2 separate regions of the Homo sapiens genome follow, and region 2 is reported to be linked to region 1. The links are microRNA targets in miRTarBase. Many come from high-throughput screens and were not tested one by one. Region 1 holds a microRNA gene; the other region holds the end of a gene's coding sequence.
Evidence for each region. Region 1 holds the annotated microRNA hsa-miR-487a-3p (AAUCAUACAGGGACAUCCAGUU, at 2,731-2,752, shown strand). A microRNA usually pairs through its seed, bases 2 to 8, with sites in the 3' UTR of a target mRNA and lowers its output. Matches are read on the target gene's strand: a 7mer-m8 pairs with bases 2 to 8, a 7mer-A1 pairs with bases 2 to 7 and ends in A, and an 8mer does both.

Region 2: the mRNA of PTPRS is a reported target of hsa-miR-487a-3p. The part of its 3' UTR that is shown has no 7-base or 8-base seed match.

What each region holds. Positions count from the first base shown.
Region 1 is chr14:101,049,764-101,054,290 of GRCh38, forward strand. MIR487A (microRNA 487a) reads left to right here and starts at 2,683; the gene lies at 2,683-2,762. It overlaps MIR381HG (MIR381 host gene), which reads left to right. Exons shown (of 3, transcript NR_104192.1): 2 at 1,304-1,506; 3 at 1,839-2,032.
Region 2 is chr19:5,203,232-5,207,493 of GRCh38, forward strand. PTPRS (protein tyrosine phosphatase receptor type S) reads right to left here. Exons shown (of 38, transcript NM_002850.4): 38 at 2,277-3,611. The coding sequence ends at 3,543. Among named protein-coding and RNA genes, the nearest start is that of PTPRS-AS1, 28 kb to the left of the region's middle.

The DNA.
Region 1 (4,527 bases):
GGGAAGAGCCCTGGGTTGCTTTGCTGTGTTTGCTGTGAATGCGATGTGTTTTTGCGAGTTATGTGAGGTTCCCTCCTCTTTGAATGCCAACTTGTGCCTTCCCCCAGTGGCTGGGTCTGTGGCTTAGCCACAGGGCTAGGTCCCTTCCTGGACCCAGTGCTTTTCAGGGTGGGTCCCTGGGGGCAAGGACAAGGTTTACCACTCCACTGGGACACTTGAGGAGAGGTTAACTCCTCCATGCGGACTCCTTTGAGGACAGCCTGTTTTCCTCTCAGGGTGGCTCCCTGGATGAAGTCCAGCACCTCTGTGGGTGTGTGAAGGGCAGGCCGACTTGGGCTGTGTTCCCACTCCTCACCCAGGTCACTGGCCCAGTGCCACTTCCTCCTCAGGTCAGCTTCCCTCTGCCAGCCGACCTGGTGGGGTCTCCTGGTCCATTGCTTGGTGCTCATAGACACTGGCACGGTGCCAGGTTCCCTTCACTCCTTCCCGATGGAGACCATGCAGCTAATGAATCTTCGGCTCTGTGATGCTGCCTTGGAGGGCTTCCTGCACACAGCACCTGGTTTGAGAGGAGAACACGGACTCCAGCGTGTCCCCTGGTTATGGAGAAGGGAGGCTGTCCTTGATCCCCCGTTTGGTGGATGATATAGTTTGGCTGTGTCTCCACTCAAATCTCATTTTGAATTCCTTTGTGTTGTGGGAGGGTCCTGGTGGGAGGTAATTGAATCAGGGGAGTGGGTCTTTCCCTTGCTGTTCTTGTGATAGTGAATGGGTCTCATGAGAGCTGATGGTTTTATAAGGCAGAGTTTCCCTGCACAAGGTCTCTGTTTGCCTGCTGCCATCCACGTAAGACCTGACTTGCTTCTCCTTGCTTTCCACCATGACTGTGAGGCTTACCCAGCCACGTGGAACTGTAAGTCCAATTGAACCTCTTTCTTTTGCAAATTGCCCAGTCTTGGGTATGTCTTTATCAGCAGCCAGAAAATGGACTAACACAGTGGAGGGCAGTGGCACCAAGCCCCGCCCCCTTCAGGATGTGGTCCCTGTGTGGGGCAGCATCCTGGAGTGGCTGCAAAGCCCCACTGCTCTCTGCCTCCGTGGCTTTGTCCTATCTGAGGTGGCCAGTGCGCTGGGGTCCCTGTGTGGAGTCAGTTCTTTATGGGTGCCTGCAGGTGCCGGCTTCACAGTAAGAAAACTGTCAGCTTCGCCTGAGGTATGGGCACAGAGGTGACGCAGGGATATGAACTTTGTTGACGAATGTGTTCTCTGCACAGCTAACCCAGAGAATTCATTCCACCCTCAGGAGAAGCCCTAGAAGTGATACAGGCTCTGGCCGGGGGACCCGATGTGCTCGTGTCGCGGCGTGGGGCTTGGTGAGGAACCACCGGAGTGCTCTTGCATTTTTCATGACAAAGACCACACAGTTGGCCTCATTCCTGCACAGTGGGAGAATGTGTGGAGGTGTCCCGCCACCAGAGAGGAGGTCTATGTCAGCACCATCACCAGGTACCTGGGGGAGGGTCTGCTGACGATGCCCAATGTTCAATGGCCCAAGCAACCCGTCCTTGGGGGACTTCTGGGCAAGACCATTTCGGTGCTCAGCCCCACTCCGTGTCCCAGGCAGAGAGGGGGCTGAATTGATGATACCTATTAAATGGGTCATTAATTCTCATTATCCATGCAGCCTGCCCATGAGGGTCCCCCAGAAGGGAGGGCAACTCCGGGGAAAGGTTCTGGCCATCAGCACGAGGCCACGATCCAGGAGGTGCTGCAGAGCCAGAGGCCACAGGACAGATTATCAAGCCAGGTCACAGGCTTTCTCTGTCCTTGACCCTCAGCATCCAGGCTACCTACAAGAGGAGGCAGGGGGACTCCTCTGACACACCTGGGGAGGTCTCGTCAATGGCAGGTTCCCTCTACAATGCTTTCTCTGCTGCAAATGCAACTCAGCATCACCTCTTTCCTGGATATAATTCCAAGGAATTATTAAAGGAGGCATTGGTGTCAGCACCTCGTGAAATACTCGTAAGGATGACCCATGGCAGAGCCTGTGTCTTCATTGGAGTAAGACTCACATGCTGTGGCCTCCAGGCTCTGGAGGCCTCGGGGGCAGAGCAGGGTTGAGGCTGACCGTGGGGCCTCGCCTGGGTTTGTGGCTTATCATATTGGACCACTGTTTTTCAGGACAAACTCCCCGGAGATGTCCCCTGGCAGGACCCTGACCTGGAGGCAGGGTGCTGTCCATGATAGGGGAATGGATGGTTGATCAGAGAACGTACATTTTATAAATGGTGTATGTCAGTTGATCCACAGTCCCTACCTATCCAGTGACTTCTGGAGGCCACATCAGCTCAGAAGACAAGGTGGTGGTTTCCTAGGCCATGCTATTTTCTGGCACTTGAAAGGACCTTCTCCTTGCCGGGTTTGCTTTCTTTATGCCCAGTCTCATGAGGGAGTGCCTTTTTTGAGTATGGATCTTGCTGGGGAAGCTTTCTGGAAGGAGCTGTTGCCCTTCGTCCCTCTCCAGGGGCAAGAATGCATGGTTGGCTGGAAAGCAAGGGCTTGATTGACATTGTGCACCCCTCAACTCTCCTAACCCTCTGTCCCCAATTCATCCTCAGGCGGACTAGCTGGAAGGAAGGCAGACTCTGGTGAAGACGTGGGCCGTCACCGTCAGCCTTCGGTACTTGAAGAGTGGTTATCCCTGCTGTGTTCGCTTAATTTATGACGAATCATACAGGGACATCCAGTTTTTCAGTATCAAATACTGCTTTGGAAGGCTTCCCGGACAGCGTCCCGCCTTCAGGCAAGGGGTCTTGGCTTCACCTCCCACCCAAGGTATGTATGTGAACGGGCCATCGCAGTGCACTAGCTTCTTCATGTGCCACAGCCATGACCAGAATCGAATCTCTGAGGAAGATGGTTACTTCTAAGGCTGTGATTTTCTGGAAGGGGCTTTGGTGTCTGCACTACATTATTGGGGGAAGTTGACCAGTGAGAGGCCCATTCACACAAGACGTCTGTCACCTGCTCCAAGTGACCCTCACCCTTGGTAAGATGAATCTCTGGAGACATGCTGGCTCGGTAGTGTTACTGTCATCAGCCGGACTGACTGATAGGTAATTGGTCATCATTATTGCTTTTGTTCCAGGGCAGAATTTTTGAGTGCCAAATCTTGCCAGGGAAGGGTTTCTGGAAGCAGCACCGCCCTCTGGGGAGACTTGGCATCCACATCTGTTGGAGTTTGTGGAGAGTTAGTTGAGCAGTCTGAGCTTTGTTTCTGAGGCGTCTCCCTGAGCTCACTCTCCTGCCAGAGCTGTGTCCTGCCCATGGCCATAATGGCTATTGAGAGGGTTGGTGACTTTGGCCACCATGATTTTGTTTCGATAAAGTTCTCTCTTTTTAAAAAAATCAGATTCTTTTGTTTATAGCATAACTACATGGTTCATGAGTTGATCAAATAACAAGGAATGACTTGGTCATTCCATAAATAGTGATGGAGTGCACACTGTGTTCTAGGTGATTCTGGACCTTAGCAGAGAGCAGTGAATGAAATCAAGTTCTTGCTCATGTGGACTTTACATTCTGGTGGAAGAGACGGATGAGAACACATGAATTAGGAAGCGTAATTTTGTCCACTGCTAGGTTTTATGGGGAAAGGGAAAGCGGGTTACAGTGACAGAAAGAGGTAAAAGCAGGTGGACCTTTGTGTTAAATACAGGGGTCTGGAAAGCTCTCTCTGAGGATGTGGGTGGGAATGGAGTGGGGTGGACCAGAGGAAGGTCTGGGGTAGGAGCATTTCAGGAGGAGGGCAAGGCCCATGGAAAGCCCCCTGGCATCTTTAAGAAAAAGCAAGAAGGCCAGTGGGATTGAACCGAGCTGCTGGGAGTCGCTGGGTCTGAGCTGGGAGAGGCAGGACTCCAGGTTTTATTCTGAGTGAGATGGGGGATTTGGAAGGGTTGTGAGCAGGGGGGATGCGTGGTCTGTGTTGGAAAGATCACTCTGACCACAAGGGCATTGATAGAGAATCTACCCAGGGCAGTGATGGGGAACCTACCAGGAGCCTGGCGTGCCTGAGCTGGGCAGTTTCTCTAGGGGCACCTGCAGTGGCAAAAGGGGGCCCCCTCTGGACCTCCCTAGTTCAGTGGGCCCTGCGGGAGCCTGGCTGGCACCTTGATGTGCTTGATGGATAACTCAGTGTGCTCTGTTGAGAAGTCCAAGGCCCTGTTCAGAAACCCTGGGGTCTACACACTGCGGAGTGCTCCTGGCGTGTGACAAGTGGCTTCCCTCTTCTTATTTCTAAACCTTGTGCGTGTGGATTCAGGACCACAATTTCAACTCCAGGGAAGGGGGACTGTGCCAGCACCACTCCAAGGGAGGTGAGTGAAGGGTTGCCCAAACTCCAGTGTGTTCCTAGGACACCCGTAAGCTGCCTCACTAATGCTCGGTGTCCACTCTGTCCACAGGATGGTGGTTGGCAGCCACTCCCCTTGGAGAAGTGGAAGGGGACTCCTTGTCTGTCTTGTC
Region 2 (4,262 bases), not on the chromosome of region 1:
GGGCAACAGAGCGAGACTCTGTCCCCCACCCACCTCCCCGCCAAAAAAAGTATTTTAAAATTTCCCTCCCCCTTCCAGGGGAGGCTAATTACTCTTCAGAGCCAAGATCAGGATACCTCATCTAATATTTGTTTCTTGGAATTTGTGAAGATCTCTGTTAATATTTTTTGTTTGTTTTTTTGAGATGAAGTCTTGCTCTGTCACCTGGGCTGGGGTGTAGAGGCGCGATCTCAGCTCACCGCAACCTCCTTCCTCCTGGGTTCAAGCGATTCTCCTGCCTCAGCCCACTGAGTAGCTGGGATTACAAGCGTGTGCCACCATACCCAGCTAATGTTTTTTATTTTTAGTAGAGACGGGGGGTTTCACCATGTTGGCCAAGCTGGTCTTGAACTCCTGACTTCAGGTAATCCTCCTGCCTCGGCCTCCCAAAGTGCTAAGATTACAGGCGTGAGCCACTGCACCCAGCCGATCTCTGTTAATTTTCACAAATGTTCCATGTGCGTTTGAGAATGTTAGAGTAGGAGGGGATAATAGGGTTTGTTAAATATTTTTGGCCAAGCTTATTAATGATGTTAGTCACATCTGTATTTTTTTGACTACCTGATCTGTTGCTTCTTTTTTTTTTTTTTTTTTTTTTTTTTTGAGACGGAGTCTTGCTCTGTCACCCAGGCTGGAGTACAGTGGTATGGTCTTGGCTCACTGCAACCTCTGCCTCCCAGGTTCAAGGGATTCTCCTGCCTCAGCCTCCCAAGTAGCTGAGAATACAGGCTCCTGCCACCATGCCCGGCTAGTTTTTTGTACTTTTAGTAGAGACGGTGTTTCACCATGTTGGCCAGGATGGTCTCCATCTCCTGACCTCGTGATCTGCCCGCCTCAGCCTCCCAAAGTGCTGGGATTATAGGCGTGAGCCACTGCGCCCGGCCTTGATCTGTTGGTTTCTAAGAGACATAGTCCTATTCTTCCCTGAGCTGGGTCCCTGGTGTCACTAAGATCACCCCTTCTCATTCCTGGAACTTCCCTGAGGTCATAGGGGGCTCTTTCATCCTATCTCTGGCTCCTGTGGGTGGCTTCTATGCCCAAGCAAGAAGTGACTCAGGCAAGGGTATAGATACAAAATGGCTCACTCTCCATCCCCAGGGATGTGATTCTGGCTCAGTGCATGGATCTGCTCATTGAGTGGCCTAGGGGTGGAGCAGAGTGTCCCCAACCTGTTGCTTCCCTCCACGGACTCAGTTCTTCCCCAGGGCACTTCGAGAAGGCAGCACCGTGTGATGCTCAGGGCTGCGGGTGAGATGGGCTGGGGTACGAATCCCAGCTCCACCTCAAACTCATTGTGTGCCCCTCCCTGAGCCTCAGTTTCCTAATATGTAAATGGGGATTTTTTTTTTTTTTTTTTTTTTTTTGGAGATGGGAGTCTCATTCTGTCGCCCAGGCTGGAGTGCAATGGCATGATCTCAGCTCACTGCAACCTCCGCCTCCTGGGTTCAAGTGATTCTCCTGCTCCAGCCTCCTGAGTAGCTGAGATTACAGGCAGGTGCCACCATGCTTGGCTAATTTTTGTGTTTTTAGCAGAGACAGGGTTTTGCCATGTCGGCTAGGCTGGTCTCGAACTCCCGATCTCAGGTGATCCATCTGCCTCGGCCTCCCAACGTGTTGGGATTACAGGCGTGAGCCACCGCGCCTGGCCAAGGGGCTGGTAACTTCTATCTCAGAGTGTCTGGCCCATGGTGAATTCTCAGTCATGGTCACTTATTAGAATGAGAACACGAGGCAGCCCCTACAGGACCAGGGCTTGGGTTCAAATCTTGGCCTGGCCACTTCATCGGTGTTTTGAGTTTTTTTTTTTTTTTTTTTTTTGAGACAGTCTTACTCTGTCACCCAGGTTGGAGTGCAATGGCATGATCTCAGCTCACTGCAACCTCTAACTCCTGGGTTCAAGCGATTCTCCTGCCTCAGCCTCCTGAGTAACTGGGATTACAGGCGCCCGCCACTGCGCCTGGCTAATTTTTGTATTTTTAGTAGAGTTGAGTTTCACCATGTTGGCCAGGCTGGGTTTCACCATGTTGGCCAGGCTGGTCTCAAACTCCTGACCTTGTGATCCACCCGCCTCAGCGGTGTGTGGTCTTGGACAAGCACCACCACCTCTCTGGGCCAACTCCTCCTCTGACTGTTCACACAAGGAAACGAGATCAGCTCTCCAGGACCCCACCGACCTCCACCCCAGGGATGAAACTGGACAGGCAGGGGCGCAACAAAGACTCCACAATGGGCCGGGGTCAGACGATCTTCCTTTAATACAAAGTCGATATATCTACATACACGGGGGTGGGAAAACCACCCGGCTGCTTCCGCTGGAATAAACAGTGTTGAAAGTAACCGCAGACCTGCCCTTGTACAAAGAGGAACAACTCGCTTGCTCAGGGTAGGCGGGTAGAGGGGGGCCTGTCCTTCTGGTTTTGCTCCCAAACTGCCCCACAGTCCCAGGGGGAAAGGGTCCCTGATGTGGGGCAGCACAGCCATACAGCCACTGTCCCCGAAGAAGTAGGATCCTCTCTGTCTCCTTGGGGGCGGGAGACGGGGAGACAGCTCAGGCTCTCAGAGGAGGACCACTGTCATCTCTCTCCTCTTACAGCAGCGTCCCCCTCAACCGCACCCAACGCCACTGGGTCCGAGCTCCCCCATGACCTTACCCTCAGAACTGTATTTGATATGTCTGAAAATTTAATTTATAAAAATGAAACAAAAAGGGGGAAAAAAAAAGCCAAGAAAGAAAAAAGGACATCCCATTCTTCTGTGAGCAAAGCACACTTTCTGATGGTAGGAAAAATTAAAAAAAAAAAAAAAAAAAAAAAAGCCAAGGTACAGCCATGGGCCTGGCGTGCGCGTTTGCGAACGTAACTATCACACAAGGACGCTTTCTACAGTGAAAAAATAGACTGTCTTTGAACAGAATATGAATAAGCCAAAGTTAGTTCTCTTTGAAAGTCATTGACTGGCGAGTCTTTTGTTTGTTTCTCTTAAAAAAAAAAATGGAAAAAAAAATACACTATTTAAAAAAAATGAAATGTCACGGGATACAGTTACACTGAGAGTTTTAAAAGAAAGCTGGATTCTGGTCCCAGCCCAGTGTCCCCAGGCTGCAGAGCGGGGAGGAGCCCCCCGGGTCCCCCTACCACCGCTGGGGGAGGACGAGGGGTCCGTCTATGGTCTGTGCCCCACCCTCCTCTGGTTCTGGGGAGCACTCCTATTTGCTCACCATCCCCCCACCCCCCACCCCGGAATCTGGTTTTGGAATTGGAAGGAAAGGAGGAATGTGCCAAGTATTTGAAGGCGGCGGCCGGTGCCAGGGAGGTCGCTGGGGCGGCCGGGGCCGGTGGGGGGGCTCGAGGGGCTGCGTCGTCCTCGGAAATGGTGCAGAAACACAGCTGCTGCCGCTGCCACCTCCTGCCCTGCCCACTGGGGGTCCAGGCCTCAGGAGGTCCGCCCGGGAGGGGCAGAGGCATCCGGGGCCAGTGGTGTCGGGCCTGGGGGGAACCATGGCTTTAGGTTGCATAGTGGTCAAAGCTTCCGAGGTACTCCAGTGCCGCCTGGTAACAGAACTGGTACTCATCCTGGGGGAGCAGAGGTGACCTGTTAGTACCTCCGCTGCTCTAACGCCTCCCAGGGCTCCCTATCGCCCTCAGGAGCAGGCCAAGCTCCTCAGCCTTGTGCGTGTCTCTTGCAGAAGGTCTCTTTGGCCCCCACGGCCCTCCCACAATGAAGTGAGCTATGCCACACCTCTCTGCCTAACACAGCCAGGCTCTTCACCCGGAACGCCCTCTCCTCCCGTCTGCCTGGAGGCCCTATTCATCTTTTCTTTTTTATTTATTTTGAGACGGAGTCTCGCTGTGTTGCCCAGGCTGGAGTGCAGTGGCGCCATCTTGGCTCCCTGCAACCTCTGTCTCCTGGGTTCAAGTGATTCTCCTGCCTGAGCCTCCCAAGTAGCTGGGATGACAGGCGTGTACCACCATGCCCAGCTGATTTTTGTATTTTTAGTAGAGACAGGGTTTCGCCATGTTGGCCAGGCTGGTCTCAAACTCCTGACCTCGGGTGATCTGCCTGCCTTGGCCTCCCAAAGTGCTGGGATTACAGGCATAAGCCACCACACCCAGCCTCATTTCTATTTTTTTTGTAGAGATGGGGTCTTTCTGTGTTGCCCAGGATGGGCTCAAGCGATCCTCCCACCTCAGCCTCCCAAAGTGCTGGGATTACAGGTGTGAGCT